2 separate regions of the Homo sapiens genome follow, and region 1 is reported to be linked to region 2. Evidence: microRNA targets listed by miRTarBase, many of them from high-throughput screens and not tested one by one. Region 2 holds a microRNA gene; the other region holds the end of a gene's coding sequence.
Evidence for each region. The annotated mature microRNA hsa-miR-378a-3p reads ACUGGACUUGGAGUCAGAAGGC and lies in region 2 at 1,568-1,589, opposite strand. An mRNA with a match to its seed (bases 2 to 7 or 8) in the 3' UTR can be bound and repressed. Matches are read on the target gene's strand: a 7mer-m8 pairs with bases 2 to 8, a 7mer-A1 pairs with bases 2 to 7 and ends in A, and an 8mer does both.

Region 1 (3,317 bases), not on the chromosome of region 2:
AAGAAATATTTTCAACATGTATGAGATGAAGGGGCTAATAACCTTAACAAAATAAAAGCTATAACACATACATGCAGACTATGAATAGGCTATTGAGAAGAACTATAATTTACAAATAACCATATAAGATACCGATCCTTCATATTTAAATAAATTCGAGCTGGGTGTGGTGGCTCACGCCTGTAATTCCAGCACTTTGGGAGGCCGAGGTGAGCAGATCACGAGGTCAGGAGTTTGAGACCAGCCTGACCAATATGGTGAAACCCCGTCTCTACTAAAAATACAAAAATCAGCCGGGCGTGCTGGCGCATGCCTGCAATCCCAGCTACTCAGGAGGCTGAGGCAGGAGAATCACTTGAACCTGGGAGGCGGAGGTTGCAGTGAGCTGAGATGGTGCCACTGCACTCCAGCCTGGGCAACAGAGTGAGACTCCATCAAAAAAATAAAAATAAAATAAAAAATAAAATAAATTCAAACTAAAAATGATTTTTTGCTTCTTTTTTTACCTGTCAGATTAACAAAAGGTGTAACTTTGACCATAATTTTTGTTATGAAGAATAATTTGCAATATCTATTAAAATTTAAAATATAACCTTTGATATAGCATTTCCACTTTTAGGAATAAATGTTTCTTCAGAACAAATGTTTCTTCAGAAACATTCCAGTTAAGTGCACAGACATATATGTACAAGGATGTTCATTACAGCATTGAAAGAAACTAAGACTCAAATCTCCATAAATAAGAGATGAGCTAAATAAGGTACACTCCTACAAAAAAAAAAAAAAAAATGATGGCCAGGTGCAGTGGCTTATGCCTGTAATCCCAGCACTTTGGGAGGCCAAGGTGGGCAGATCACCTGAGGTCTCGAGTTCAAGACCAGCCAACATGGTGAAACCCCATCTCTACTAAAAATACAAAAATTAGCCAGGCATGGTGGTGCGTGCCTGTAGTCCCAGTTACTTGGGAGGTGAAGCAGGAGAATCGCTTGAACCCAGAAGGCAGAAGTTGCAGTGAGCTGAGATCACGCCATTGCACTCCAGCCTGGGCAATACAGAGCGACTACGTCTCAAAAAAAAAAAAAAAAAAAAAAAGGAATGAAGCAATAGGTTCTGATAGGTAAGACACCAAAATGTATTAAATAAAAAGGTCCAAGTAGTACGTATAAATAGCCCATTGATAAAAATCTATTTTTCAGATCTAGGAAAAACAGGGGCCCTTACCTGCTCCACTATTTGTACAATGTGTTTTTGTTTTTTTTTTTTGAGAGGGAGTCTCGCTTTGTCACCCAGGCAGGAGTGCAGTGGCGCCATCTCAGCTCACTGAAAGCTCCGCCTCCTGGGTTCCCGCCATTCTCCTGCCTCAGCCTCCCCAGTAGCTGGGACCACAGGCGCCCGCCACCACGCCTGGCTAATTTTTTACATTTTTTAGTAGAGACGGGGTTTCACCCTGTTAGCCAGGATGGTCTCAATCTCCTGACCTTGTGATCCGCCTGCCTCGGCCTCCCAAAGTGCTGGGATTACAGGTGTGAGCCACTGCACCTGGCCTATTTGTACAATATTTATATTTGAAATAACTTCATACTAACAAGCACGTATTTTAAAATTAGAAAAAACAAATTTTAACACATGCTAAAACAGTATGTGTAGACAAAAAGTTATGTGCCCAATATGTTTTATCAGGACATGGGAGTTTGAGTGATATTTTTTCTGCACTTAAAATTTTTTTCTTTTCTGAGACAGAGTCTCGCTCTGTAGCTCAGGCTGGGGTGCAGTGGTGCAATACCAGCTCTCTGCATCCTCCGCTTCCTGGGTTCAAGCGATTCTCCTGCCTCAGCCTCCTGAGTAGTTGGAATCATAGGCACCCACCACCACACCAAGCTAATTTCTGTATTTTTAGTAGAGATGGGGTTTCATCATGTTGGCCAGGCTGGTCTTGAACTCCTGACCTCAAATGATCTGCCCTCTTCAGCCTCCCAAAGTGCTGGGATTACAGGCATGAGCCACCACGCCCAGCCAGAATTTTTCTACAATGAATACATGTATTCTCTATTAAGAAAAAATTAGCTGTTAAAAAAATTCAGGATTTTCACTTGTCTTTAGGACCAAAATTACCACTACTCCCTCCCCTCCAGGAAGTCTAACATAGCCTTTGCTCCACCTTAAAACTCATCCATCCTTCTCCTTTTGCTGCTTTTTATGAAGTCTGACACTTTCCATCTTTGTATTCCCAGCCCAGCTCTGCCCTGAGGGAGGGAAGGCGAAGGCTGGGTGTTTAGCTTACTTTCAAACTTTGTATTTCCTTTTCTTGTGTGTGTAATGGGGTCTTGCTATGTTGCCCAGACCTGCTCTGGAACTCCTGAGCTCAAGCAGTCCTCCCACCTCAGCCTCCCAAGCTGAGGACTACAGGTACATGATACCCACCCCTGGCTGTATTTTCAAAAACAGTGAGTCAGTGTCTCTAGAATGAATAGATATCTGCCCAGAAATACTCAACTTTGAGTGGGGCTTTACACCAGAGACATCCTTCACGTAACAACCCCTAAGTAAACAAACTAAGGTGTGGAGAGGGGATGTAAACATTGCTCATAGCAGCCTCCTACCTAAAAACACACAAGAGAGTGGTGGCAAAGCATTGGTCTTCACTGGTCTTTATTGAATGAGGGTTGTCAGGAGCAAAGGTGGGATCAAGAGCAGCAAAAGCAGAAACAAGTATAAAAGTATCAAAAAATACAAAGTGCTAGCACTGAGGAGAGTGAGAAGGGTTGGGTTGTGGCCCAGAGGGACCTCTGGGACACAGGATTGAGGACTTGCCACAGCCTCCAAGGGAACCTAGGCCTGGGGGGCCTGTGCAGGATCCTTGGCTGAGGGTGGAAGTGGCTTGAGCGGGGCCCAACCCTGGGCCCTGAAGTATGAGACCAGTTGTGTGGGCACTTCTGCGAGCACGGTCTGTGCCAATGCCTCCCGAGGGGCCTGCCAAGAAAAGGGAAAAGTCAGTGGTGGCCCAGAACAGCTGCCCAAAGTCTGTATTTCATGCTCAAGAACCCAACCATATCCCAGGCTTAGAGGAAAAGGTGAGCATCCCTTGGGCCTCAACCCTACTCACATCAGGGAAAGGTGAAAGGGTAAACTCCCAGATCAAATTTGCACCTACTCACATTCTGGAACCGGCGGTAGGGTACAAACTGCACAATGTCGCGGGCAGCAGCCTGCCCAGAACGTGTATGCAGGGGTCCACCATCAGCGTCCAGCTGCTCCATGGCCTCAAAGTCAGCACCACCCACACCCACAATGATCACTGACATGGGCAGGTTCGAGGC
Region 2 (3,000 bases):
TACTGATGTGGAAAGATGTTCACAGCATATTGTTTGGAAGAGGAAAAAAAAAAACAAGTTACAGAACAGTGCAATTCCAAGTTACAAATCAGTATATTCAGGATAACTCCTTTTTTTTTTTTTTTTTTTTTTTTGAGAATGAGTTTCGCTCTTTTGTCCAGGCTAGAGTGAAGTGGCGCGATCTCGGCTCACTGCAACCTCCGCCTCCCGGGTTCAAGCGATTCTCCTGCCTCAGCCTCCCAAGTAGCTGGGATTACAGGTGTGTGTCACCACGCCCAGCTAATTTTTGTATTTTTAGTAGAGACAGGATTTCACCATGTTGGCCAGGCTGGTCCGGAACTCCTGACCTCAGGTGATTCACCCGCCTCGGCCTCCCAAAGTGCTAGGATTACAGGGGTGAGCCACCGTGCCCGGCGACTCCATTTTTTAAAAATAAGATGTGATCTATATGAACAGGAAATAAACAGTCTGGAATATACATGACAATTAAGTGGTTATCTTTGGGTCATGTTACATATTTCTCATTTTTTTCTTTATGCTTGGCAGTATTTTCTAACAATTCTATAATTAAATATTTTTAAATAAGTTGTTAGAACTGATGATTTCTAACATTCCCGCTGCCAACTCTGACATTTTGTGCATCTATGACTGATGCCCTAAGCAACTTCAAATAGCCCATATTTAGTGTGGACTTGCTGTGTGGCCTTTGGGGTCTAAAATTTTGCCCACAGCTGCAGCCCTCTGCATTCCTCTCTCCCACACTCGCTGCCCAGCTGTCTCCCCTGCTAGCCTGGGAGCTTCTGCTTGGCAGGACCCAGCTGCACCCCTGTCTGTAATCCATGTGCCTAGCCAAGAGCTAAGCAAAGGAACACAGCTCAGCATACTGACAGGTGCCTTGCAGGCACAATGATAAAAGGTACAACCCTAGTGCTAGAATCTTACTGGACACCAGACTCACACAAAGTGCTTGGTTGTATCACACAGATGCAGAAAACCAAAGGAGAGAAAGCAGGGCAAGCTGGGCTGGGAGAGCCTAGTAGAGGAGAAGGCCATGCAGGACGGGTGAGTGAGGGTACTCTGGGCCAGGGGCATAGCCTGAACAAAGGTGAAGCCACCCACAGTCCTTTGGGATCCATGCCTCAAAGCTTTCCAAGAAACTTTCGCAATCCTTGTTCTGCTAAATTTCCGTACTTTGGCCCCAATGGGTAAAAGTTAAGTCTCCTAAACAGAAGTCCTCCCTCTAATCTAACCCTGGATTAGCCACCAAAGACAACAACAATCTTTTGGGACAAAGACAATGAATTACCATTTAATCCACTTTCCCCAAAGCTCCCAAAGGGAGATGAAGGAGGGGAGGGTCAGGGAAAGTTTGGGGGAGGAGAGGGGGTTGCAGGAACAACCAGAACATCTCACATGCAAACACTGCTCACCCCCACCACCAGGCCATTGGATTCTCTTGCGGCACCACCAGCCCCATTTGACAGATGGAGGAAATGAGGCTCGGAGAGTTCAAATGGCTTGCTCCGGGGTCACCCAGCCAGAGAGTGGGGAAGGTGACTCCACTCAGGCCTTCTGACTCCAAGTCCAGTGCTATTTCTAGGTAACACACAGGACCTGGAGTCAGGAGCCCTGGGTGGCTCTGTCACCCTCTGGCTGCATGGTCCCATACAAGCCGCTCACTCCTCGCAGCCTCTTTCTCCAGCTGTAAAATAAGGAGGAGCACACTGGGCCCGCCCAGGTCCTCTTCCGGCTGGGCTCTCCGAGCCTTCTAGGGGCGGCTCAAAGCTCATCCTATCAATTACATTTCCCAAGTTGGGCCGGCAAAGATCACCAGAAGATCCTCGGCCTGTCATGTGGTTAAATAAAAAAAGCAAATGTCCCAGATTAACTTTCACTGCACTGCTCCTGCAAACACCTGAGTATTCAATTTTCTAGTTTCCTTAGTTGAAATATTTCTGCTAGCTAGGCTCGCTGGGCGGCTAAAGGGCAAAATAATTAATTATTGCTGAGCCAAACACTGAAGATCGAGTTAAAATCCGGGGTACAGTCCAAAGCGGACAGTTCTTGACATGGGTCCCTGAACGAGTCTCCGGCTATTTCAGGCCTCTCTCATCCGCTTTTCAGCCAAGAGATTCGGAGACGCCCCAGGGCAATTTCGAGATCTGGGGACAGAATCTTCCCAGGAGTGACTCTGCCCCTCCTCCCGCACTCAGTGCCCGCTAGCCCCAAGCTGTCGGCTCTGGGGGTACTGAGGCTGGGACCTGCCTTCGGCGCAGACACCGGCGCGGGGCGTGTGACGGAGCCCGGCGACGACGGCGGGAGCTCCACCGCAGTTTCGTCAGAGGTAAAGGTACGCGCCCGGCGCGCGCGGCGTGTGCACACACACACACACACACACACACACACACACCCGCGCGCGCAACCCGCTCATCACACATTCCCCTCGATCTCGAGAAGCGCAATCACACGCCACTAGCCCCTCCGGCCTCTGCCGCGAACCCACCCGAGCGCGCCCGCCACCGACCACGCGGCCCCGCGGCTCCCCTACGCAGCGGCGTCTGCAGCGGGCCAGGGGCGGCCTGCCTCCCGCGTGGCGGGCTTCCTCTCGGCGACACCCTGCCACGCCACGCCGTCCCAGCCGCCAGCCCGAAGTCGCTGCCCGGAGCTGAACGTCTCGGCTGCGGCGTCCCTTCCAAGTCGCGTTTCACCGCAAGGAGTCAGCTTGCAAGCCTCTCCCCGCCCACCCGGTCCCATGACAGCTGCTGCCGCCCAAAGACAGGCAGATTATAACAAGAAGCAAAGTTTCCCTCTCTCTCCTCCCACCTCCCTCCCCCAATCTCCGCCTTCCCCCTCCCTTCCACTGTTATGCAAAACGGGCCGGCACCGGCGCTCCCACTCCAGGTACCAAACCAGCCCCCGCGAGCCGCGCCCGGTTCCGCCCGGCCGCCCCTCTCCGTGCCCAGGCGTGTGCCAGCACCCGGGGCTCCTCCGAGGTTCCGC

Region 1: miRTarBase lists CPNE1 as a target of hsa-miR-378a-3p. The part of its 3' UTR that is shown has no 7-base or 8-base seed match.

Annotation. Positions count from the first base shown.
Region 1 is chr20:35,623,412-35,626,728 of GRCh38, forward strand. It overlaps CPNE1 (copine 1), which reads right to left. Exons shown (of 16, transcript NM_152925.3): 15 at 3,156-3,317; 16 at 2,633-2,970. The coding sequence ends at 2,830. Among named protein-coding and RNA genes, the nearest start is that of SPAG4, 9.2 kb to the left of the region's middle.
Region 2 is chr5:149,731,456-149,734,455 of GRCh38, reverse strand. It overlaps MIR378A (microRNA 378a), which reads right to left and starts at 1,631; the gene lies at 1,566-1,631. All of the region lies in intron 1 of PPARGC1B (PPARG coactivator 1 beta), which reads right to left. RefSeq lists silencers at 2,479-2,708, 2,739-2,828, 2,849-2,898, 2,909-3,000.